Linked DNA regions of Homo sapiens: regions 2, 3 and 4 are each linked to region 1. Evidence: fine-mapped expression QTL. A gene starts in region 1. Each other region holds a variant in brackets. All regions are shown on one strand. Distances are between the middles of the regions. Region 1 holds the start of RAD50 (RAD50 double strand break repair protein). Region 2 holds the start of MIR6830 (microRNA 6830). Region 3 overlaps RAD50 (RAD50 double strand break repair protein). Region 4 overlaps RAD50 (RAD50 double strand break repair protein).

Region 1 (5,000 bases):
TTCAATGATGGTCTAAAGAAATAGAAAATTACATTATTTCGTTATAAGAGAACCACAGAAGTTTACCATAAAATATGAATTCATTACAAAAATATTATTTATCATGGAAACTATAAAAGATAAAATCTGACATTATAAAACCTGTAATAAAAATATGATTAAGTGTTAATGCTGTAAGTTCACAGAAATGCTATATAACTAAGAAGTTATCCTAATATGAAGAATTGTTACTTGGGAAAAAAATAATTATTTTCAACTGAAACCCTTTAAACTAATTTAAGTTAATAATAAGAATGGCTAACAGTTAAGTACTGTATTGTACTAAGCACTCTTACATACATTTATTTAATTCTCACATTAACTCCAGGCTGTAGGAACTTTTTGTTTAAGAGACAGGGTCTCATTCTGCTGCCCAGGCTGCAGTGCAGCTGCATGATCATGGCTTACTGCAGCCTCGACCTCTCGACCTCCTGGGCTCAAGCAATCCCCCAGCCTCAGCCTCCCAAACGGCTCGGATTACAGTCGTCAGCCACCATGCCCAGCCTGTAGAAACTTTTTTTTTTTTTTTTTTTTTTTTGTGGGGGGAGAGAGTCTCCCTCTGTCACCCAGGCTGGTGTAGTGCAATGGCGTGATCTCGGCTCACTGCAACCTCCACCTCCCCGGTTCAAGCGATTCTCCCGCCTCGGCCTCCCCAGTAGCTAGGATTACAGGCATGCGCCACCACGCCTGGCTAATTTTTGTATTTTTATTAGAGATGGGGTTTCGCCACGTTGGCCAGGCTGGTCTCGAACTCCTGACCTCAGGTGATCCACCCGCCTCGGCCTCCCAAAGTGCTGGGATTACAGGCGTGAGCCACCGTGCCCAGCTGTAGAAACTATTTTTAATCTCCATTTTATAAATGAGAAAACTAAGGCACAGAGCAGTGAGGTCACTCGCAAACAATCAGACAACTAATAAATGAAGCGAAAAAGCTGTATTGAGGCAGCCAGTCCTCATAAACACTATACAGTACTACTCTCCCTTCTGCTAGTATTTAGTACAATCCTAAGTACATAACAAGCATTCAACAAATAACATTTTTACAAAAACAAAAGTAAACAAGTTTGGCATTCAATTCTCAACCTTCTCTCTTTCTACACTCTTCACAAATCCTTCCTTTAGACTCTTCTCCCTGCTATACTGACATCGTCTTGCTTTTTCTTAAGCCACTATTCCTGACCAGAATGCCTCTTGGTTATTCTTTCCATTCAAATTTATAAATATTCCCACGGCTTTAAAAAAAAAAAAAAGTCAGTCGTGCACCAACGTTAAATTTTTGACTGAGTTTTAAGAAGAGAAGTTTTCCAAGTTAAGCCCCACTACATCAGTTACATTTTGAATTTATTTATTTTCCATGTATTATGTCTGGACAGTTGGCATACTTGGAAACTCTTTAGTCATGTATGTATCATTTTATAACTTTTAAAGGAATTCTTGTATGGGACAACTACTGGGAAGTGAATGCTATGCTTTGAAAGCAAGGAGACAGCGTTAAAAACATCAATACAGACCAAAGGGCATCCAGTGGGAACTGAACTCTGAGTGAGCGGCGACAGCTCCCGGTATCGTGGGATTCTTAAGTAAACCTTGTCCCCAGGCCAGGTCCGGACATCCTTCCGAGACTGCTTCAGGCAAACTCCTAAGGTCGCTGTAGCCTGCAGGCCACACCCTAAGGCACTTTAAGGGCCTACACCTGTGGAGCCCTAGGGACGCTTCTGCTCCTAAGGAGAGTTCTCAACTTCCCATTTTATTCTCCGAAAGATGTAGCGACCTGTAAACTGAAGGCGGCTACTGAAGACTTACCGTCTTTCCCGCCCCATTGGGTCCAACCAAAATTGTAAGGGGGCTGAAGAAAGTGATAATTTGCTTATCTTTGTCCTCTATTCCAAAACTCCGCACGCCCAGAATGCTCATCTTTTCGATCCGGGACATGTTTGCAAACGTTTCTAATCTCACCAGGGACCTGGAGCCCACAAAGGCTTAACTGAGGCCGAAGCAAGGCGTGCACGGGACGTGAGACCCGCGAATCTCAGGGTCAGGAGGATCCGGGCGGGGAGCGAGGCCACAGGACTGCCAAAAGATCCTGCCAGCCAACAGCGGGAGAGAGGGGGCGGGGGATGGAGCCTTTCCTCCCACACCAGCTGCTTTCCCCGCCGGTGGGGAGAGCGGAGGCGGGGACCAGCCTGGGGCTGCCCGCCGGGGACGCAAAGCCGTAGCCACAATGCGACCCCGCAACCGCGCACTCACAGCTTCCTGCCTCGGCCGCCCTGCGGATCACGTGGGCCTCTAGGCCCGCACGCGTCCACGCCGCTCTCCTGGGGCACGCCGGGAAATCAGAGTCCCGCGGTGCGTGCGCAGCTCCGACTTCCGGGTGCGGTACGGCGAAGCAGAGGGCTAGGTGCTGGGTGCTGTTGCCAGGGGCAGCGGACTTCCGGATCTTTGCTGGGGATGGGCAGCCTGGAGAGGCACTGACTTTTGGAAGGGGAGACCAAGACCTGTGACGGATGGCGCTTCCCAAAGCTTGATCCTGGGACTCCTGGAATGGGGGTAGTGGTGGGGTGGATTGGAGACCCAGGAAGCGGGGTCAGTTCGTGTCAAAACTATTTTCCTTTTCATTCTCATTCTCTCTCTAACGTTCGTGTAGTAATTTCCAGTGATCACATAACATGTGATGACGCCATTGCAGTGGCGGTTAATGGAATGTGCGCATGTGTATTCTTGCGCTTAGAAATACCAATTTTAATTTCTAATTGAGTAAATGTTGATAATTATAACTCACGTACACGCTCTTTGAGGTCCCCCGTAATTTTTTAGTGTAAAGGCGTCTTTAAGACCAAAAGTCTGGGAACTAAAACTAAAAGCAGTCTGCAAATATGAAGAATGTAGAGGTAATCCATTCCGATCAGTGCTCCCAGCAATAGATATCTTTAAAAATAAGGGAAAGAGAAGTTACCTGTCTCAGAAGTAACTGAGAATATTGCTTTCTTGGAAACAAACTTAATGGAGGGATATCACATTTAAGGGCCTAGAGAAACATACATAAAAATTACTGAAACAATAGTGGAGGACATTTAAATGAAACACAAATTTGGAATTACTGTAGTGGTATAATTTGCCTCTGCCTGCCTTGGAAAAATGTAGGAAATGTTTCTCCAGTCATACAATCCCAAGCAAATAATTTACAGAACCTAATACATAAATGTATGTGCCAAAGGATGCAAGTGGGGAAGACCAGTGAGAAATAGTCTCTTGCTGTACCAGGTTAAAAAAAACCGGAAAGTGTCAGTTATTACAAAATAGTTAAAATAACTAATGGAACAAAACATTAAAATTATATAGGAATGTCTTACTTGGCAAAGCAAATGTAATAAAACAATGGGAAAAGACGAAAGACCTTTTTTTATTTTAAAAATTGTAAAATACACATAAAATTTACTGTCTTGGCCAGGCGCGGTGGCTCACGCCTGTAATCCCAGCACTTTGGGAGGCCGAGACGGGTGGATCACGAGGTCAGGAAATGAAGACCATCCTGGCTAACACGGTGAAACCCCGTCTCTACTGAAAACACAAAAAATTAGCCGGGCATGGTGGCAGGCGCCGATGGTCCCAGCTACTCAGGAGGCTGAGGCAGGAGTATGGCATGAACCCGGGAGGCGGAGCTTGCAGTGAGCCGAGACCGCACCACTGCACTCCAGCCTGGGCAACAGAGCGAGACTCCGTCTCAAAAAGAATTTACTATCTTAACCAAGTGTACATTTCAGTGGTGTTAAGTATACTCACGTACAACCGTCACCACCTTTCAACCTCTACAAATCTTTTCACTTTGCAAAACAAACTACCCATTAAACAATAACCCTTTCCTCCCCACATCCTCCAAACCCTGACAACCAACATTCTACTTACTGTCTCTATAATTTTTTACTAAGTACCTCATATAAGTGGAATCATACAGTATTTATCTTTTTGTGACTGGCTCATTTCACTTATAATGTCCTCAAGGTTCATCCATGTTGCAGCTCAGTCCCCAACCCCTGGGTCACTGACCAGTATGCATACCTGGCCTGTTAGGAACCTGGTGGCACAGTAGGAGGTGAGCAGCAGGTGAGTGAACATTACCACCCGAGCTGGGCCTCAGATCAGTGGGGGCATTAGATTCTCATAGGAGCACAAACCGTATTTTGAACTGCCCATGAGAAAGATGTAGGTTGCCCCATGCAAGGGATCTAGCTTGCCCATTCCTTATGAGAATCTAATGCCTGATGATGTGAGGTCGAACAGTTTCATCCCAAAACCATCACCCCACTCCTGTCTGTGGAAAAACTGTCTTCCGTGAGACTGGTCCCTGGTGCCAAAAAGGTTGGGGACCACTGTAGCATATATCAGAATTCAGGTCGTTTTTAAGGTTGAATAAGATTCATTACAATACACATCACATTTTGCTTATCCATCTATTGATGGACATTTGGGTTACTTTCACGTTTTAGCTATTGTGAATAGTGTGGCTATATATATTGGTGTACAAATGTCACTTCTGGACCCTGCTTTCAATTCTTTTGGGTATATACCCAGAAGTGGAATTATTAGATCATACAGTAATTCAATTTTTAATTATTTGAGGAACTGCCATACTGTTTTCCACAGTGGTTGTACCATTTGACATTCCCACCAATAGTGCATAAGGGTTTCAATTTCTACATATGCTTGCCAACACTTGTTATTTTATGTTTTTTTATGGTAGCCATCCTGATGAGTGTGAAGTGATACCTCATTGTAATTTTGATTTGCATTTCAATAATTATTAGTAGCATCATTTCATGTGTTTATTGGCCATTTGTGTATCTTTGAATAATTGACTATTCAAGTGGAGACTTTTTTTTTTTTTTTTTTTTTGAGATGGAGTCTCACTCTGTCACCCAGACTGGAGTGCAATGGTGCGATCTTGGCTCACTGCAACCTCCACC
Region 2 (8,171 bases), 340 kb after region 1:
TTTTCCTATCCTTCCGACCTAAAGTTCAGAGCTTTTTATCCTGTGGTGAGCCCCCAGGATATCCATGCCCCAGTGTCATGACCAGCTATGTAACAGTCGGAGAATGAGATTTAGGGCTGCTTCTTGAGTGACATCCAGTGCACTTATCTCAAACATCCCCTTGGTGCCTCTGCCTCTTTCTTCCTGAAGTTGCGAGATAGAGCCCCATGAGTGCCTAGGCCCCCTTTAACTCCAAGTCCCCATAATCCTCAGAGAGCTGACATGTTCTTATCCCAGGGGACTTGCTTCTGTGCTGGTATTCTGTGCCCCAAGGAAGGAGGCTGGACATCCCTCATCTGTTTCTCACTGGTGTCTTTCTTCTCTCCCTTGCAGGGCACATGACTGACCTGATTTATGCAGAGAAAGAGCTGGTGCAGTCTCTGAAAGAGTACATCCTTGTGGAGGAAGCCAAGCTTTCCAAGATTAAGAGGTGTCCTAAGTCCCCAACCATCCTTAGTTGGCCTTCCTTCCCTTCTGCCCCTCAAGGAACAAGGAAGCCATCCAGGGTGCCTATAAGAGGAAACCTTTGAGAGGGTGATGTGGGGCTGGCCTGGTTACTTCATGCCAGTGCTTGAGAGGAGCTAAGTACATGGGCTAAGGAGTCACTGTTTATTTTCTATTTAAGACCTTTTCCCTTACATTGGGGGTCCCAGCTGTTATCTAGATTAAGGGGCTAGAAGTATCTGTGGGGAGTTACTGTATTCATTTTTCATTGCCTCTTGATGAAAAGGGCCCCAGAACCTGGCACCAGGGAATTCTCACTAGGAAAATTGTCACAGGTCAAGACCTATGTGGGTGGACGCATTAGTCTTCCTTTTCCTCTGGTTCCACAGCTGGGCCAACAAAATGGAAGCCTTGACTAGCAAGTCAGCTGCTGATGCTGAGGGCTACCTGGCTCACCCTGTGAATGCCTACAAACTGGTGAAGCGGCTAAACACAGACTGGCCTGCGCTGGAGGACCTTGTCCTGCAGGACTCAGCTGCAGGTGAGGGACGGTGAGCAGGTGCTTGAGTGAGCCCATATGTTTGTGTGCTCATGCCTGGGTTGTTGTGTCTGAGCCTGTCTTGGGTCTGGGTGTTGGTGGGCAAGTACATTGTGGAAACAGGACCCTGCTGGTCTCATGGCTCTCTCCCTTCTCTGTGGGGACCTGGAAGTTGGCTGGCCTTGGTTTTTAACATGTAATGATGTTCAGTTCTTTTTTTAGCGTCTTTTTTTTAGTGTCTGTCTTTTCTTATTTTTTGCTAATGACATTTTTCCAATTATACTTTAGTGATACATGTTTATAGAAAAGTCGGAAAACACAAAAACAAGAGAATTATAATTCTTAATCCAGTTGCCCAGTGGTGAGCATTATTAAAATTGTAGTTTTTCTACCTATGCATATACATTTAAAAAATGGAACTATACATACATACCAGGGCATGCAAACTCAGTTGCTTGGAGGGACAATGAATTTACAAGTGTCAAGTGGGCTGGATGGTGGGGCCAGGGCAAGTTGGGGAGCATAGGTCTGATCTAAATTCATTCCTATTCATATGTTTTACAAACAAAGCATATCTGTTGGTAGATTTGTGACAGAAGAAAAAATTCTGTGAATTTCTCAGCTTCTTTATATGCCATTCAATGTTCTTCTGCAACATGATTTTAATGGCTGGATGGTGATTACCTGTCAGATGGTGATAATCTGTCATACTGATAATACTGTCAAATGGGTCAAGTCATTGGATATGGGATTTTTTCTGAATTATCAGCACCTTTTTACATATTTCTTGGTGTATACTTCTGATTACTTTTTTAGGGTAAGTTCCTAGAAGTGATATTACCGATGAGAGTGTGAACTTTTTAAAAGCTTTAAACTATACTTGGTGCTTTTATTGTGATAATACTTTTTATGCCCTAATACTTTTCTGTCAATAAGAAGAGATGGTACGGTGGGCCTGGAGGTGGGCTCTCCTAACTCCTAGCCCTGGGTTTAGTCCCCTGGACTCACTGACTTTTTTTTTTTTTTTTTTTTTTTTTGAGACTGAGTCTCACTCTGTCACCAGGCTGGAGTGTAGTGGCGGGATCTCGGCTCACTGCAACCTCTGCCTCCGGGTTCAAGCAATTCTTCTGCCTCAGCCTCCTGACTAGCTGGGACTATAGGCACATGCCACCATGCCCAGCTAATTTTTTTTTGGTATTTTTAGTAGAGACAGGGTTTCACCATGTTGGCTAGGATGTTCTTGATCTCTTGACCTCGTGATCCACCCATCTCCACCTCCCAAAGTGCTGGGATTACAGGTGTGAGCCACCATGCCCGCTGCCTTTTTTTTTTTTTTTTTTTTTTTTTTT[A/TTTTTTA]AAGGGACAGGGTCTCACTATATTAGCCTAGACTGGAGTGCAGTGGCTATTCACAGGTGCGATTGTAGCACACTGCAACCTTGGACTCCTGGCCTCACGTGATCCTCCTGCCTCAGCCTCCTGAGTAGCTGGGACTATAGGCACAGTGCCATTGTACCCAGCTCTTCACTGCCTCTTTTCCCTGAGCTGTGAGTGCTGATTAACTTCAGACTAGCTGTCTCTCTGGCTGAGACATTTTAGCCCATGTGGCCAGACTGGGTTGGGCCTGGGGGCAGGGTGGCCTCTGGAGAGGGATTGGTGAGCTCAGCCAGGCTGGAGCTGTGCCCAGTGAGCTCACTGCCTCCAGAAACCACGGCTGCCTTTCCCAGACTCCCGCCTCTCCGCCTGGGCCTGCAGCTCGGGACAGGCTGTTCTGCCTGCACGGCAGGAGACTAAGCCTACCCAGATGACCTCCTCTCTCCAATCTTGTTCTCCACACCCTACACTCCCACCATCATCTGGTTCCTTTGGAAAACCTTATGATTACCTGGAAGGAGATAGGGCAGGCCCAGAGAATAATTGGTTGTTTTCATCTCTGACTTTGAGTTCTTGCCCCTGAAACGAGCAGGGCATGCTGACAGTGTGGCTTTTCCTGGCAGCATGTTCCCCTACTCCCACCCCACCAGATTCTAAACTCTTTAGAGTCCCTGACCATGTAGCTATGAAGACAAGGAAGGCAGGGTTACAGCTTCTTGGTCCCTGTCCCCAGTTATGGCTGAAGTGGATGTTTAGGTCTGAAGTCATAGGTGGCAGTGGATACAGCTACTCTTGGGAAGAGGTTGGGGAAGGAATGGCCTTGTTGTTCCCCTCTCACTTCTCAGCTTAGAGGCAGAATTGAAGGCCCTAAGTCAGCCTGGGAAGGCTTGGCTCCCACCTGGGATTGTAGGAGGTACACATCTTACTTTACAGCTAGGGCTTGGAGTCCCAGAAAAGCCTCCTTGGAGTACTTCTGTGGTCAAAAGCTCTCCCACGCTTCAGGCTGTGGTCTTGAGCACCATAACTGGAGAGCCCATGCCCTGAACTCATTGAAGGTCTGAGTGGTGGGAGTACAGAGGAGAACAGGCCCACCGTGGTCTCTTAGGGGACGGACCTTGCTGGGTTGGTGCAACCCCACCTTGGTCCTTGGCCTGTCTAGGTGGTCCTTCAGCTGTCAACCTAGGGGGAGGGGGATGACTTCCAGGACTTTCATCATCACCTTTCTGGATGATAAGTGCCAGTGGTCAGTAATGAGTGGCCAGCTCGGCTTCATTAGTTAACTGTCATTGTCCCTTGGACTCCTCAACTTGAAATGTGTGCTGGAAGTCTGTGTTTACCTGACTAGCCCAATTACCCTGGATCAAGGTTTTCCATGGGATTTATTTTCCACTGAGTGGTTGACAGTTCTTCCTGAGTCCTCTCCCGTGCTCTTCTCAGTTACCCTCTCTATCCTCTGTTTCTTCTGTCTCCACCAGCTCTGACTGAATGATTTGGAGCCAAGACTTCTGGACTCCTAAATATTAACCAATATGGGGGGCTGCTTCTACTTAGTTCCAAAGAGCAACACAGGCAGTAGGTATGGTGAGGAGTAAGAAAGGAAAAGTCCCCATAGACTGGAGTCATCAGGGACAACTTCCTGGTGGAAGGGGGCAACAGCCTTTGAGGGAGGGGGCGGGGAAATTTCACTAGCCAGAGACCCTCTTTGTGGCTGCCTCTCTGGTCCCAAGTGGAATTCTGCCCCTGGATCAAGGGTAATCTCTTGTTCTGACTCTCATTTGGAAGGTTTTATCGCCAACCTCTCTGTGCAGCGGCAGTTCTTCCCCACTGATGAGGACGAGATAGGAGCTGCCAAAGCCCTGATGAGACTTCAGGACACATACAGGCTGGACCCAGGCACAATTTCCAGAGGGGAACTTCCAGGTAACTCACCACTCCAGGCGTTGCCTGTCCCGCATGTGTCTCTTTAGTGGCGGGACAGGTTGGAGCCACCACCAACTTGTGGCCTTTAACCTCGGGTGCACCTCTGGTGCACCTCTTGGCTCACCAGTTTGTGCTGGACTCCCTCTCCCATGACAGGTTTCTCCCTCAGCCCCTGCCCTGCCACCTCCCTCCATGTATTAGCCAAGGCCCTCTCCTCTTGCATCTCAGAGAAAGCCAAAGTTGCTGCTCAGGAACCCCCTCCACGTCTGTCCCCAGAGCACCACACAGATCTGCATTCAGACCTGCTTCTTGTCTCCCACCCTCCAATGTCTTTTCATCTAAGGCTGATCTGGGCTTACTATCCCCCTGTCTTGAGTCCTCTTAGTTACAGTCTCTGCTCCTATACATTCTGTCTCCACCTCTCTGGGTTCTACCCTTGAGCTCCCATATAGGCTCTATTCTTGCTCATCTTAACACTTGCCTCCCTCGGTATCTGAGAGTCTTTCGAGTCTTTGCTGCTGATTCATCTCTTCTCCCCTCCTGGTTAGGCTACTGGATAGAGTAATCTACACTCTGTCCATTTTCCTGGTTCCCATATACTCCTGAACTCACAGTATCTGGCCTTTTTCCCCACTGTCACTGATGCTGTTCTTACAAGGTCATCAGTGGCCGCTTGGCTGGTAAACCCAGCGAACAAGGTTCACACATAATGTTCTTTAACTTCCCAGCAGCATTTGACAGATAGATTGCCTCATTCTTTGTGATGTTCTCTCCTCCTTTGAATTCTGGCATACTGATATCTGCTTCTCTTTTAGCCTCTCTGGTCATTTTCTCTCAAGTGGCCCCTCTCCCACTGACTTCCCAGTGTTAGTGTTTATAAGAAGATGTTTTGAGGGCTGCTGGAGACAAGTAACCCCAGCGATTCACTGTGTGAGGCTCATGCAGACCCAGCTTATTCCAGCTCCAGAACCTCAGCTGCCCCCTTTAGACTCCATTAGAGAGAGGGCAGTTCAGGGCACCTGCAAGATCTGTTCACTCTGTAGCCTTGAGATTGGTTGCTTGGAGGAGGGAACCATACCCTGGCGTTGACCTCTCACGTTCACTCAGCAAACCCATGAGTGTCCTGAATAGGGTTATGGGGCAGAAAGGAATTACTCCCTAGGACTCCATCCTTACCTCATCTTCTCCCTGAGCACCTTCCCCAGGTGAGCACAGCCATTTCCATCACCTGAGGTGGATGACATCCAGATCTGTGTTTCTTGCCAAGGCTTGTCTCCCGAGCTTCTAACCAGTGTAGACGGATGCCTTTGGGACATCTGTACTTGAATGTCCCATGGACTTCTCGAACTTCATGTGTCCTGAACTGAAATCCTCATCTCCTTGTAAACACTTTACCTTCCCCCTCATCCTTCTATCTCAGCAAAAAGGACCTCCATCCTCTGGCTGCCTAAGCCAGAAGCCTAAGGCCTATGGATTCTACCTCCTTCTCTCATGTCTTCCGTGCTTATCCCCTGACTCCAGCCTCACAGCTACTTTTTTCTCAATTTGATTATCAAAATACCATTCTGACTTGTCTCCTACCTCCAGCTTACTGCTTAAGACCATCCTCCATGTGGTCTTAAGCACACATTTGTTCACATGAGTTCCTGATTACTGTGCTTAATTTCCAAAGCTAAACCCAAACTCCTCCTGTGTGTGGTCTTTGGGGTCCTGCATGACTCCATTTTCCTGGCTTCCTTGCCCATTGTACTCAGCTTTCCCTATCACTCAGCTCTTTTGTCTCAACCCCTCTATAGGAATACCTTTACCCATGTCAGCTAGGCTACTCCATGTCTGATTGCCTATCAGCACTCAGCTCAGCTGTCACTCTCCCAAATGCTCTCCAGGGAGTAGACATTCGAGTTGGCTCTGGGGAGGATGCTGAGTGCCAGGGAGCCATTCTTAGCATTCTTGGCATCTGGGAGACATGTTGATAATAGCTACTGGTCATTAGCATCCTGGGGAGCATAGGAGACATCTTCATATGTCATCTTATTGAATTCTTGCCACAAGCTCTTTAAAATTGATGATATTATCTTTATTTAGAGATAAGGGGACTGAGACTTAGATATGGTAACTTGTCTATAGTCACACAGCTGGTTGGCGCCCTAGTGAGGCCAACACAAACCTAGTTTAGTTCAGCTCCAGAGCCCCAGCTCAGTCAGCTATGTTACTCTGCCCCAGCAATGTAGGTTCCTGGGCCTGCAGAGCCAGAGGAGACCTGTGGAGAAGGAAAAGGGGCTCCAGGAGCCCCCCAGTCCCTGGCCTACCTAGGGACTTCATCTTGTGTTTACTGTCCCCAACTTCCTATTCCTCGTTATTGGTTCCTGAGCCACCGGGGTTAGCAGACCCTGGTCTCTGAAGCATTTAGCCTACTGTGTAGTGGTTTCATTCCAGGCAGAAAGAGCCTTCTCTGAGTTCTTTTGTGTCAGCCATGCCCAGGTTGCTGTTAATGGGGCTGTGGGGAGTCTTCCTTGCTTTCCAGGGAGAGTCACAGCCCCCACTTCCCCTCCATGGTATCTGCTTTCTCATTATTCTCTGAGGAACCACACACATAGTCTTTCCCATCTTGAGCTCACCCTAAATCCTGCATCTCCCTATAGCTGCTTCTTCATATTGGCTTGAAACTATCTTCATGGTCACTTTCCAGCACTCCCTCTACAGCAGATGACCTTTGGTCATAAGACCCACTGAACTGATACTCAGCAAGGTCCCTGCCACTTAACAGCCAAAGCTGGCACTGCAACCTTGGCTCTTGGCCTCCCTTGGTGTCTCTCACACCACTCCCGCTCCCTCTGTTTCTCCTATCTTTAGTTCATTCTCAGGGTTATTCATTGTCTGTTCTTTCTGGGTAGGTGCTCCCTGGAGCTCTGGCCTTAGTCATCTTCTCCATTCTTTCCTCAGAGTTCCTGCAAGCTATTTTCCTCACCCATGGCTTGGTTGCCACCTAAATTTATGTTTTTTATATTCAGCTAATTTTTCCATCCTCTAGACTCATATGGCAAACTGCCCACCAGACATCTTCTTCTCTGTGGTCCACAGGACCTTCCCACTGTCCTCAACAATGCTTCCTGGTGGGTTTCTGGGGCTCCCCCTAAAAAGGCCCCTTCCCACTTGGGAGATGGGGAATCTGAGGCTAAGAGGTGGCTGTGAACCCCAGTCCAGGGCAGGGCTGGGCCATCTGTCTGTGCTCACTGTGTCAGTGGCCCTTTAGGATATGCAGTCTAAATGTCCGATGGAGTTCTGCTTGGTGATGCCCCCTATCCAGTGGCTCAGGCTTTCCTTGAAGTGGGAATCTCTTTCCCTAATCCAGAGGCTCTTTGGAGCCTGACAATTTACTTCCCCTGCTGTAGGAACCAAGTACCAGGCAATGCTGAGTGTGGATGACTGCTTTGGGATGGGCCGCTCGGCCTACAATGAAGGGGACTATTATCATACGGTGTTGTGGATGGAGCAGGTGCTAAAGCAGCTTGATGCCGGGGAGGAGGCCACCACAACCAAGTCACAGGTGCTGGACTACCTCAGCTATGCTGTCTTCCAGTTGGGTGATCTGCACCGTGCCCTGGAGCTCACCCGCCGCCTGCTCTCCCTTGGTAAGGAGATTCTAGGGGAAGGTAAGATGGGAATGGAGAGTGGCAGAGGAACTGCACTGTGCTGGCATCTGCCTGACCCCTCTCCTGGGACTGAGTCAGTTTACCCTGTCACTTGGCCAGTGACTAATGCCTTACTGACTTTAGGACCAGTCCAGCTTCTTACTAGCTCCTTACCCACCTCAATCCTGGCCTTAGGTTTGCGCAGTCGCTGATAGATACGCTCAGGCCTGTGGC
Region 3 (5,000 bases), 34 kb before region 1:
AGACATCAGTTTGAAAAGAGCCCCAATTAAACTGAAGCAAGAACAAGTATCAAATTTATGGTGAAGTGTGGGTGGAAGAATGGTGAAATCATTGATACTTTACAACAAGTTTATGAGATCAATGCCCCAAACAAATCAGCAGTTTACAAATGGATAACTCAGTTTAAGAAGGGATGAGACGATATTAAAGATGAAGCCCACAGTGACAGACTGTTCACATCAATTTGTGAGGAAAAAAAATCATCTTCTTCATGCCCTAACTGAAGAAGATCAATGATTAACAGCAGAAACAATAGCCAACACCATAGACACCTCAATTGATTCAGGTTACACAATTCTGACTGAAAAATTAAAGTTGAGTAAACGTTCTACTTGATGGATGCCCAAAATCACTGCTTCCAGATCAGCTGCAGACAACAGCAGAACTTCCTCAATAAGTGGGATCAAGTTCCTAAAGCATTTCTTCAAAGAATTGTAACAGGAGGTGATGGAATGTGGCTTTACCAGTACAATCCTGAAGACAAAGCACAATGAAAGCAATGGCTAACAAGTGGTGGAAGTGGTCCAGTCAAAGCAAAAGCAGACCAGATAAGAGCAAAGGTCATGGCAACAGTTGTTGGGGATGCTCAAGGCATTTTGCTTGCTGACTTTCTGGAGGGCCGAAGAAAGGTAACAACTGCTTATTATGAGAGTGTTCTGAGAAAGCTAGCCAAAGCATTAGCAGAAAAATGCCCAGGAAAGCTTCACCAGAGAGTCCTTTTCCACCACAACAATGTTCCTGCTCATTCCTCTCATCAAACAAGGGCCATTTGCAAGAGTTTCGATGGGAAATCATTAGGCATCCACCTTACAGTCCTGATTTGGCTCCTCCTGTCTTCTAGTTTCTTAATCTTAAAAAAATCTTTAAAGGGCACCCATTTTTATGCTAGCAATGTAAAAAAGACTACACTGACATGGTTAAATTCCCAGGACCCTCAGTTCTTTAGGACTGAACTAAATTGCTGGTATCACTGCTCAGAAGAGTCTTGAACTTGATGGAGCTTATGTTGAGAAATACAGTTTATTTAAAATTTTTATCTTTTAATTCCATTTTTCCATGAACTTTCTGAAGTCTCCTTGTATGTAAGAACTAAAGTTTATCAATATAACATACCATTTCATGACAATAAATTATTTTAAAACAATTAAACAGGTAAGCATGAAATAAGAGATTTCTATTACATCTCCAAATGTTGCAACTTACTTCAATTTGGCAAGTCTGTCCCTGGTCTGATTAATTTCTTTTGATTTACTATGTAGCCAGTCTTCAAGCTGTTTTTTGTTGGGAAAATATCCCAACAGTGAGGTTAATTCATCACTGTGCCTAGATTTTATTTTTCTGATTTGTTCATCTTTGTCAGCCTATAGGTAAAAAAAAAATCTTTTAAAAATAAAGTCTATATCTCCACATTATATCAAGAACAAAAATAAATTCTAGACTGACTAAAGTTCTAAGCTTAAAACTATAAAAATATGAAAATAAAATATAAAATTTCTTAAAGTTCTTAAAGTCTTCAAGTGGGGATGGTCTTTCTAAGCCTTAAGAGTGGAGTACCAAGTCGAACAATATAAAATTTTAAAATTTGTGTATGTTAAAAGTTAACAGTAATGTGCATGTGTGTATATACATATATATACATTTCTGTATTAACTTTTTGTAATTAAACAATAACTTTTAAGCTTGAAAGTCTATTATATAGAGTACTAAGCTCACTTAGCCTCTAAAATATAGTCAATACCAACTTAATACCTTATAGTCTATGACTTATGAGTGCAAGGTAGGCTATTTTAAGTACCAGACAGTATAATTAGAACAAAAAGAAAAATCATACTTTGTCTTTGGTCAGCATCTCCATTTGGGTACGTGTTGTTGTATGATGGTTTAACTGCTCCATCTCCTGGTCAAGTTTACGCAGGGTCCTGTCTAAGTCTGCTTTTTCATTTTGGAGACTTATTACTTCCATTTTTAAGGTTTCTACATTGCTGTTTTTCTCAGCCTTGCTTAACTCACGTTCCTAGTCAATAATTCATACAAATGCAAAGGTGTTATATATTTTGTGCAAGAATTAAAATAATGACAAAGTGTATTAGAAATTAACTACTCCTCAGAATGTTCCAAATATTACTGTTTGCATCCAACAAGAGAAAAAAACATAAGGCACTATATATGCTCTAAGGTATATCTTATTAAAGTGACCTTACTATGTTATAATGGTAGAGAATTAGTAAATAAACCTAGAAGGGTCAAACAGGAAAGAAATGTGAGAATTACTGTAAAATTAGGAGACATGTGTCTAAGTACACAGATTAGTGAGTCCTCAGTCAACAATTAAATATTTATTATGTCCCCATGTAATTCACTATATTGCCTGGTATGTAGAAACTATAAAAATAGTGTGATGTGGTCCCTGACCAAGTATCTCCCCACCCCAACAAGACAACACTGATGAAGTGCTAAACTGACAAAAATGTATGCTACAATGGTGAGTTATGGAGCAAAAA[T/C]AAATGTTTACATAAATTATCAAGATGGGCTTTAAGAAGTTTGCCATGCTTTAGAATGCTTACTTTGGTAATGGAGATGTGAAGAAGGAGGACAGACTAGAAGCAAGAAAGAAAATATGGAAATACCTGAAAAGATTGGCTAAGAAAGTTTTTAACACAGAAAAAGTAATAATACAGCAAAAATCATCTAGAATTACAACGTGTGTGACCTAGAGGAAAAATACTTGCTTTTTTAAAACTTTGGCAAGTGTTCTTTTTCTTTTTTTTGAGATGGAGTCCCACTCTGTCACCCAGGCTGGAGAGCAGTGGCGCAATCTTGGCTCACTGCAACCTCTGCCTCCCAGGTTCAAGCGATTCTCCTGCCCTGGCCTCCCAAGTAGCTGGGATTACAGGCACACGCCACCACGCCCAGCTAATTTTTGTATTTTTAGTAGAGACGGGGTTTCACCATGTTGGCTGGACAGGTCTTGAACTCCTGACCTCACGTTATCTGCCTGCCTTGGCTTCCCAAAGTGCTGGGATTACAGGTGTGAGACACCGCACCCGGCCTGGTAAGTGTTCTTAATCAAGGTGCTCATAAGAATTAGCCAGTTTTGTTGTGTTTTGAATGTACATTTCTATGCCCCATTCTCAGAGATTTTGATTTGGAAGGTCTGAAGCTTTAAGGTCTGAGTACAGTATCTTTAAAAAGCTCCCTATGTGATTCTAATTTTCAGGCTATCGGGTTGTAGAACCAAAGAGTCAGAAGATCAAGATATTCAGATGAATTCATTTTACATGAGAATAAGACAAAGTTGATGTTTTTATTAAAATGCTATAATCTTAGGATCAAAAATAGACAAAATACTTCTAAAAGTATTATATCTTAAAATTATTAGATTATTCAAACAATATCTTACAGCTTTTATGAGCTCCTGGTCCAGTTCAAGAATCCTGTCTGAAGATCCTTCCAACTGCTGTAATTCATACTTCACATTTTTCAGCTCATTCTGCTTCTTACTTAGGATTTCTGATTTTAACTCAATTATTCTTCCCAGTCCAGTTTTCTTATCTCTTATCTCATCTATCTGTTTTTGTTTCAGAGTCTCTTTTTCTGCAAAGTCATTCTAAATGCATATGTAAAGAATGAGCATTAATAATTTACTAAACAATTTAAGTTTTTTAATTGCAAAAGGAATATATGTACACTGAAGAAAATACAAAAAAGTACAGTCGTGTGTTGCTCAGCAGGGATATATTCCAAGAAATGCATCATTAGGCAATTTTATCATTGTGTGAACATCAGAATGTATTTACATAAGCCTACATGGTATAGTTTAATACACACATAGACTATATGGTATAGCCTATTGTTTATGGGCTACAAACCTATACAGCATATTACTGTACTGAATACTTTGGCAACTGTAACATGATGATAAGTATTTATGTATCTAAACATATCTAAACACAGAAAACATACAGTAAAATACAGTATTATAATTTTATGGGACCAATGTCAAATATGTGGTCTATCACTGACCAAAACATGTGGTTCAAGACTGTATTTTAAAAACAATCAAAACCATTACCCAGAGATAATCATTAACTGTGAGCAAATGTTTTCTCTGCAATTAGTTTTTAAAAATTTTTACTTAAAACCAAATAAAAAATGTAGGTTTACATTTTCTTCATATTTTTATCTTTATACACTTAAGAACATTTGCTTCAATAAAGGTTTTTCTGCCTTGTAGCAGATTTTATCCTAACACTAATAGAAAAATATGCCAAAATGGAGTCCAACCAAAAATTAAAACAATTCAAGTAGAGAATATGATGCAAACAAAATAACAAATACTGTATTTCAAAATACTTGCCATCAGTTGGTTGGCAGTTTTTGCTTCCCCTTCTTGTCTCTCTCTCACAAGTTTGTGAAAATTTTTAATCTGTCTTTCACTGAATGGTCCACGCTCAAAGCCATCCAATTCTAGCTGTGTTGCCAAAGACTGAATTAATGAATCTCTAGCTCGGATATGTTCTTGATGGCGATCTGCTTGCAGCTGTAGACGACCTTTTAAAAAAAAAATCTCATAATTTTTTTTTCAACTGGTGCTTAAAAAGTTGAGATAGCTGCAGATTCACGAGTTATAAAAAATAATGCAGTGTGTCTCTTGTACATTTTGCCCAGTTTCTCCCAATGATAACATTTTGCAAAACTGCAGTAAAATATCACAACCAGAATACTGATATTGATATAATTCATCAATCTTATTCAAATTTCCCCAATTTTATTTGTACCCCTGAGCATGTGGATGTGTGTATATTAAGTTCTATATAATTTTATCACCTGTGTCGGTTCATATATCCACTATGGCAGTCAAGATACTGAACAGTTCCAATACTACAAGGACTCTCTTTTTGTTCTAATCATAACCATACCTAGCTCCCTCCTGTCCTTTCTCTTACCCAGTATCCCTGGC
Region 4 (8,171 bases), 87 kb before region 1:
TAATCAGTTGCCACTGATTATTCTGCAGGAAGGGCTGTTTTCAGAGTGAGCTCTGAGTTAAGTCAAATAAAGATAGGTCCTGAAAATGGAGCTTTTCAGTGAGTTGCCAGACAAGACAAATAGAGGCAGTTCTCTAGTAGTGGAGATCTGGGGGACCTCCAAATCTATTCTGTCTCCTCCAGTGGCTACTAGGTTGCTGATTTTCACAGATACTAAGAGGGCTGTTGGTTTTCAAGTTACCATGGATTAAGAGAGAAGGGCATGGGATTAGGGCAACTTAAAATGCCACTTTCTGCTCTGAGATTCAGCTGTTTTCCTTTAATAAACACACCTCAGTTTGTCGCTATCCATTAGTTAATTTCCAAAGTTCTGAAAAAGTTGATTTTGACATTTTTGCCAGTCTTATTGCTTTTATGAAGAAGCAGATTTTGGATGGCTTTTACTCCACCCTTATGGAAGTAGAAATCCTTTAGATATTAAAATTATAAATTTGTACAGATCCTTTGGATTCAATCAACACCAAGGGGTTCTTTTTATGGCCTCCTTTCCTGATATGCAAACACCTTTTTCCAACAGTGAGAAACTCAGTTCGTATTATCTACAACACAGGTATGTATTTGTTTGACTTTAGTATGTACATAAAAATTTCGAAATTGCTAACCCACACCCCTGTGAGAAACACATTTTCTTGAGTTACTTTTTAAAAAGATCACTGGCTGCTGTGTTGAGAACTACAGGGAGCAGGCCCCAAATCAGTGGGAGCAGTTACGTGGTTACTCAGATTATTCAGGTTAGAGATGGCAGTGGCTTGGACCAGAGCAATGATGGTTTAGATCAGGGGTCCCCAACCCCCGGGCTGCAGACCATTACCTGTCCTCAGCCTGTTAGGAACAGAGTCGCACAACAGGAGGTGAGTGACAGGTGAGGGAGCATTACCGCCTGAGCTCTACCTCCTATCAGATTGGTGGTGGCATTAGATTCTCACGGGAGTGCAAACTCTATTGTGAATTTGCACGTGAGGGATCTAGGTTGCGTGCTCCTTATGAGAATCTGACTAATGCCTGATGATCTGAGATGGAACAGTTTCATCCCGAAACCATCCCCCTCACCCCACCCGTCCATGGAAAAATTGTCTTCCACTAAATCGGTCTCTGGTGCCAAAATGGTTGGGGACTGCTGGTTTAAATGGTGAGGCATGGTCAGATTCCGGATGTTTTGAAAATTGAACCCATAGTATTAAACTGACGAATTAGATATAAGATGTAAGATAAAGAATCAAGGATAATGCCAATTTTTGCCTGAGCAATTGGAATAATGGAGTTGCCATTAACAGAAGAGATTCAAGTTCTGGGAGAAAGACTGGTTTTGGTCATTTTAAGTTTTAGACGTTTATTAGATATTCAAGTGCAGATAGATGCCCAGTTATCCACAGGCAGCTGAATATATCAGTCAAGCATTTAGGAGAGATCTGGATTGGACACAAACATTTATGAGTTATCAGTGTATAGATGGTGGTTGTAGGAGTGGTCAGTGCCCTGCCTATATCCTATGATCCTAGGAACTGCCAGTGTGCTCCTGCCAACTTTCAGCTGCTGCTGCTTTTTTTTTTTTTTTTTTTTTGTCTTTTTAGACAGGGTCTCACTCTGCCACCCACCCAGGCTGGGGTGCAGTGGCACAAATCACAGCTCACTGCAGCCTTGAACCCTCAGACTCCAGGGATCCTATCTCAGCCAAGTAGCTGAGACTACAGGTGTGCACCACCATGCCTTGCTAATTTTTTAAAAATTTTATGTAAAGATGGGATGTCACTATGTTGCTCAGACTTTCTTTTTAAACTGTGGAAAGCAGCTGTGTCGGTACACATGGCAAGCCAGTAACTAACATGTGCTAGAATAGCCTTCACTCAGTAACCCTGGCAAGTTGTTATATAAATACTCCAGGTCTCTTGCCCCTTAGGTGGGATAATTCTGAGGTATATATTTTGCCAAACTCCCCAGAGTCTCCCTGGGGCACCAAACTCTAATTGCCCACTTACCGTAGCTGGCTTAATAGTAAACTTTTCATTGGCTGCTTTCTCTTTCATACACAATTTCCCCAATTTCCTACTGATTACTTTCACGTGAAGCATTGTTTTACGCTCTGCTTCTGGGAGAACCCAAACTAAGATAATTTAAAGCTATGAGACTGGATGAGATCACCAAATAAGTGAGCACAGAGAAGAAAAGAGGTGCAGACTCTGAGTACTAAAACCTGTGACATTGAGGGGCCAGGGAAATGAGGAGGAAACAGCAAAGGAAACGGGATGTGCAGGTGTTGCAGGGAGGAGGCAGAGCTGGATTCCAGTAGGGCTGGGGATTGTCGGGACAGTTTGAGTACAATGCAGTGGAGGGTGACATAATGATGAGCCATGGAATTTAAGTTGAATAAGGAGAGAAGTACAGGCATCAGGGAAACAACCTGTGAAAAAGCCATAGAATCAATGGATTGAAATCTCAGTGGGGTCAAAGAATTGCTGGGGTTGAGGACCACAGGAAAATTGTAGACACCATGGGGTTATTGGAGAGTGAGATGCTTAAAACTGAGATTTTGGAGGGGTGCAGTTATTGTTATTAAAAGGACGGGGCTCTAGAATAAGACCATAGAACTGAGTATCTTCTCACTGGAGGAAACAAAAAGGGGCTGAGGGAGGCCAAGGTAGGCAGATCACTTGAGGCCAGACGTTCAAGACCAGCCTGGCCAACAAGGCGAAACCCTGTCTCTACTAAAATACAAAAATTAGCCTGGTGTGGTGGTACATGCCTGTAATCCTAGCTACTTGGGAGGCTGAGGCAGGAGGATTGCTTGTATCAGGGAGGCAGAGGTTGCAGTGAGCTGAGATGGTGCCATTGCACTCCAGCCTGGGTGACAGAGCAAGACTCCACCTCAAAAAATAAAAAAGACTGAGAGGCCAAGGAGTTGTATTAGACCATCACTTGGATATTGAAATCAGCAATGATTATTAGTAATGGGGTGACACTGAACCGGGAGCTAAACTCTTCAACAAATAAGAGGGAGTGACCAAGCTGGGAATGAAAGATAACTGCAACAAGAGTGAAATGAAGACAGCTTTTTCTTGAACACTTACACAGTATTTAGTAGGTGGCAAGCAGTTCTAAGCAGTTTGTAAATAATGTCATTCAATCTTCATAACAACCCTACAAAATATGTACCATTTTACCCACTTTTACATATAAGGAAACAGAAAACAGGACAAATAACTTGCTCAAGGTCCCCAGCTAGTGAGTGGTGTGCTAGGATTTGAGCCCAGGCAGTCTGGCTCATTCTAACCTCCATCCATGCTGTGATGGCTATTCATTCCAATGTGGGGAAGGGGGATATTTGGAGACTGATCTAGAAGCAGCAATGAGAAGCCAGAAAGGCACCTATCCCACCTCCAAACCCATGGGCTTCTTGGAATGAAAGCAGCCACTCTCAGAAGTGCTGCCAAGGATGCCACATATTCAGGGGGAAACCAGATTTAAAATTGGGAAGTCTGTTTTAACTTGCAAATGATACTTTTGTTTCACTGCCTATATTGATCGTGTATTGCCTTTGTTATTCTTTGCTGCAACAACTAGCACTTTCATTAACATGTTGATAGAAGGTAACTGGCTTTAATATTTACTGAGAAATGTTTTATTTTGCAGTTAAGATGACTGTTTAATTTTGATTTAGCAACAGATAACATTAAGAAAATATTATTTGCAAAACTGTGAGTTTGCTAAAGCTAGGAGATGTTGAATTTTATCAAATATAGCTGCTAGAATTTTTTCAGAATTTTTTTCACCTTCGGTTTTATTATAGTGATGGATTTATCAACAGATTTTTCATTTTCTGAAATCTTGCATTCTTGGGATAAAAATATCTTGGTTATTGTGGATGTTTAATATATGACTAGAATTGATTTGCTCTTAATCTTACTCGTGATTACATTTAGGACCCCCCCCCACCCCACCACCACCCCCAGGATACTCTGTCTTAAGGTCCTTAGCTTTAATCACATCTGCAAAGTTTCCTTTGCTGTATAAAGTAACAGTCACGGGTTCTAGAAATCAGGACCTGTCTATCTTTGGGGGCCAACCATTTAACCTAGCACAGATAGATGCCTTAGGACCTTAGGGCTTAATTCTCTTCTGGACCCAGTTGAGAAAAGCTGTCTAGGCAAACATGCTCATTATAGCTACAGATGGCACAAAACCATGCCATGTGACTGAATCAAGACCCGGTATGGTCCTGGCTGACTCTGAATGACAAAACTCTACAAAGCATAATTCAAAAGCGTGTGACTTGGTTGCATTCTGTGTGGAATGGAAGGATTCAAGATGTCAGCTGGCAATTCCAGGAAAAACTGTGATTAGGCTTTTCTTAGAAGTGGCATCTGAAGAGCAAATGGAGAGGCCTGTTCTTCCAGGTCTGGTTGGACCCTACAGGGAGCAGGCCTTGACTCTGTGAGTGAGCCTGGCTTGCCTTCCACATGGCAATGCCCACTTAGAGAGGAATCAGGATTGATGGTGAAGCCAGTATGCTACACAGGATAGACGCAGAGGAGTGTTACAGGCTTCTTCACGATGGGCAGATCAGGCCTCAAGTGGTCAGAGCTTTCCAAAGGTGGGTGTGCACAGTGGAGAATTTCCTCTCTGTAGAGAGAGCTCTGAGTCTGGATGACCATCTGGAAGGGATATGTAGGAGAAGAAGGTGGTGGGTACTGACTTAGATGATTACTTAAGGTTCCTGTCAAACTTTGAGACCCCATTCAACTACTTCAAATTTTAGTTGGGGAAACCAAGTCCCAGAGAGAGAGGTCACTGGATTTATAAAGTTAAAAGCAGAGCCAAACATACATCTCACCATTTCTGGTCATCCTCAGATATTAATACTCAGTTTTTCAAACCACATGCAAGGAAGTAAATTCAGAGGTAACATTTAACTATGATTTAAAAAAATACCAAAACCATAAATTTTCAAGGCAGTAATTATCTCCTTCTCAACAGTGCTTTGAGAAGAAGCATGCATTTGCACTGGGGA[G/C]GGAGGCACAGAGTCGAGTCTCGGCTGTACTGCTGAACCCTGAAGGCCTGACAGAGGCTGCCTGGAATGGGATGAAGAGCAGCAAATCAGAAACAGGCAATCTGTCCAATTTTCAGTGAAACAAGTTTCATGATTTTAGAACCTCTCAACATCCAAAATCCTAGACACAATGTTCCTTTGAAAGAATATATTTTCTTATTGACTAAGTTGATATGAGAAATAAGTTTCTTATTATACACTTTCTGAGGACCTACATTTCTATGGCATTTAAATCTTGGATATTTTTAATGAACATTGAATCCCAGGGAGCTAACACTGCATTTCACAATCTCTGAGCACTGATCGATGTTCTTTTTAATCCTGTAGAATTTCTCCACATATTCAGAACGTCCTAAAAGCTCCACAAAATCTTCATCATGAGTGATTACCAGAAGCTGGAAGTTACGCTGCTGTGAGCGACTTTTTATTATCCTGCAACAATATATTCAGAACATATTATTAGTAAAGAGCATAACCCCTTCTTTGATTTGAAAAGTCACCGCAAACCTTGTCAGACACATGAACTTGTGCTGTGTGTCAGGGCCCCAGCTACCCTGCAGGAAGTGGAGGGGTGGCCCCAGGCCTTCAGGCCAGCCAGGCAGGAGTCTCTTCTCCTCTCCAGACAGTAGGGACACATGGCCTGACTCCTCACTTAGGTCTGGCTTAGGGACTCACAGGAATACAAGAACTAGTTTCTTCCAGATCAGAAGTTCTCACTAAAGCAGGTATAAATATTTTATTGAGTTTTCCTTAATATCCAAACTGTTCAACTATAGAAGGCTTACTCCTTCGCCTGGGATTTTCCTGACCTGTTACTACTTTTCTCTGGAAGAAAAATTTAAAAGTAATAAAGACAAACTACAGGTAAGGGGAATAACACTGCTTTCTTAAGAGCTGGGTCTACTTAGAATTCTGCCACCACCAGTCACTAGATGCATCATTACTATGACACACAGGGACCTGAGTGGGTGTTCTGGGAACATTTTGCTGAGGTAACCAGCAATGTGACTGAAACCTGAAAGACTTTTTCTTTTAGCTAGCCACTTATCCCCTTCCTGGAGCTGGATGCATTTGAGGTTTCAAAAGCACTCGCCCTTACTTGTGATGATGGCTGCAGAAAGGTGGCCCTGCGCTGCTGAGCTCTCCTTCTGGCCCTCTCTGCCAGAAAGGGACTGTCTGGAGCCAGGAGTGCCTGAAACACCTCCTTTGACCTCAGGGAAACTGCCTTTTTCTCTGCCAGCATAGTCCTTATGCAAGAGCTGCTTGACAACCTTGGCGTCTACACTGACCCCAGGTGAATGTGGTAAAAGGTGTGCAATTTTACCCTCACTGGACTTTACCTAATCTCAAATAAGCTTTTTGAGTAAGAGCTCTGTCATTCCTCACAGTTCTCTGACACATGTGGAAAGCTGGGGAGACAGTCCTAAACCCACTACCACTACCTGCAGATGTCTTAGCAGGGCATGCTAATTGCTGTGCATGACATGTGGGTTCCTCTGGTAGGTTTACAGGAAAACCAGGCCAGGAACCCCTCACAGTGACTCTCTCCCTGTGAACACACTTGGGGAGCTGCAGGATGTGTCTGGGGCTGCTGTTCACCATCTAGTTCCTTTAGGAGGGATCTGAAGAATTACTATCAAAAGGTAAAGCCCAGGGCCTGGCACCAACTGGCTTCCCCAAGAAGTGGGGAACACAGCTAGAGAACGTTTTCATCACAGAACTCTCTTGGTTTTGAAGAACTATCACAACCTGTCCCCAAATGTGAGATACTTACTCAACCAGAGCATGTGCAAGAGATACTTACTCAACCAGAGCATGTGCAAGAGATTCAATGTTTTCTCGGTCAAGATTTGTTGTTGGCTCATCCAAGGCAATGATGCCACAGTTGAGGCAGAACGTTTCAGCCAGGGCCAGGCGAATGATGAGTGAGGCTAATACCTGGAAAAAAGCCCCTATGTGAGAAGCCCAGCACAGACCTTCTCATCTCATGGCAGGCAAGCAGTCCTGACATGATCTTTTCAGCAGGGAAAAGTGGGAAACGTCACAGGTTCACTGTTAGGTAAAGCACTGCCCTCTGGGAGAGCCCAGCACTGGGACCAGATTCTTATGTCCTCCAGAAGGAGAACCTGCATGATCTCAGCCTATCATTCACCACAAAACAAAATGCTCAGAACAACGCTGATGCTCTCACATAAAAAATTACATCAGCTACAACCAACTTGAGACCAAAGGCTAGAAACAGAGACAATGCCATTTATCTGTAATTTTAATAATCCTGTAAGATGAGCAACCTTAAAAATTCTTGACCTGGCTATTTGCCTGATAATGGGATCTGTTAGAAAACTTCGACACGTTTTCTAGAGCCTCTCACTTTTTCTCTGCTACCTTTAAATTTCCATATTCTTGTGTATAATCCTGAGACTGAGAGAATAAAAAAGAAAATCCTAGGTCAAAGTATCAGGAGTATAGAAATGTGGTTTCAGTTAAGCTTACCTGTAGAAAATCCAAGTAACTGGAACTGTTAGGCATTTTCGTGGTTACTAGAAACCTAATACTAAAACCCTCAGACCCACTGAAACCATCTGAGGATACAAGACACACAGAATTGAGAGAGTAGGGCTATTCTAGGAAGTATAAACTACTCTGGTGTGAGCTGTAAGTCCCCTTTCCCCCTCAGTTTGTGGGTGGGTGCGCACACATCAGTGAGTTGGTAATTTTAGAATAGTTTATGTCTTTTCTTTAATGCCTAGGCAAGCCAGAAGACAGGGCCACAGCTTGGCCCTGTGAGGGACAGGCATTTCCTTCCTGTCTTTGAATCCAAACTGCTGTCAACTCTACCACCACCCACTCACATGCAGAGCCCCTGGCTGGCTGCTAGAGCCTCAGCAAAAGCCAGTGTTAGGTAGGCTGGAGGCCCACCTCCATTATTTGTTCTCTCCCCTCACACCAAGGAGACAATTATTGCTAATTAATTTTCATAACTCAGAATAGCTACAAAAAATCTTTTTCCTCAAGATATTTTTGAAAGTATTTTTAATTCAAAGAGACCATGTTTCAAACTCTGTATT

Evidence for each region. PIP is the estimated chance that this variant, and not a neighbour inherited with it, causes the effect. A credible set is the group of variants that fine-mapping cannot tell apart.
Region 2: its variant is the best candidate, but not a certain one, in a credible set for the expression of RAD50 in prefrontal cortex (ROSMAP, PIP 0.61).
Region 3: its variant is the best candidate, but not a certain one, in a credible set for the expression of RAD50 in whole blood (INTERVAL, PIP 0.89).
Region 4: its variant is the best candidate, but not a certain one, in a credible set for the expression of RAD50 in blood mononuclear cells (TOPMed, PIP 0.65).

The regions. Positions count from the first base shown.
Region 1 is chr5:132,554,296-132,559,295 of GRCh38, reverse strand. RAD50 (RAD50 double strand break repair protein) reads right to left here and starts at 2,319. Exons shown (of 25, transcript NM_005732.4): 1 at 1,843-2,319; 2 at 1-12. The coding sequence starts at 1,971. It also overlaps a transcript of IL5 not described here. RefSeq lists an enhancer at 2,036-2,696.
Region 2 is chr5:132,210,050-132,218,220 of GRCh38, reverse strand. P4HA2 (prolyl 4-hydroxylase subunit alpha 2) reads left to right here. Exons shown (of 15, transcript NM_001017974.2): 3 at 373-469; 4 at 873-1,024; 5 at 4,168-4,305; 6 at 7,698-7,937. It overlaps MIR6830 (microRNA 6830), which reads left to right and starts at 303; the gene lies at 303-372. The variant A/TTTTTTA (reference allele first, on the strand shown) is at 2,371.
Region 3 is chr5:132,588,278-132,593,277 of GRCh38, reverse strand. RAD50 (RAD50 double strand break repair protein) reads right to left here. Exons shown (of 25, transcript NM_005732.4): 8 at 4,398-4,591; 9 at 3,441-3,647; 10 at 1,872-2,054; 11 at 1,244-1,401. Among named protein-coding and RNA genes, the nearest start is that of RAD50, 34 kb to the right of the region's middle. The variant T/C (reference allele first, on the strand shown) is at 2,542.
Region 4 is chr5:132,639,542-132,647,712 of GRCh38, reverse strand. It overlaps RAD50 (RAD50 double strand break repair protein), which reads right to left. Exons shown (of 25, transcript NM_005732.4): 24 at 6,908-7,041; 25 at 1,364-5,535. The coding sequence ends at 5,349. TH2LCRR (T helper type 2 locus control region associated RNA) reads left to right here. Exons shown (of 3, transcript NR_132125.1): 2 at 5,431-5,515. Among named protein-coding and RNA genes, the nearest start is that of TH2LCRR, 13 kb to the left of the region's middle. RefSeq lists a silencer at 6,202-6,351 and enhancers at 5,518-6,913, 8,015-8,094. The variant G/C (reference allele first, on the strand shown) is at 5,065.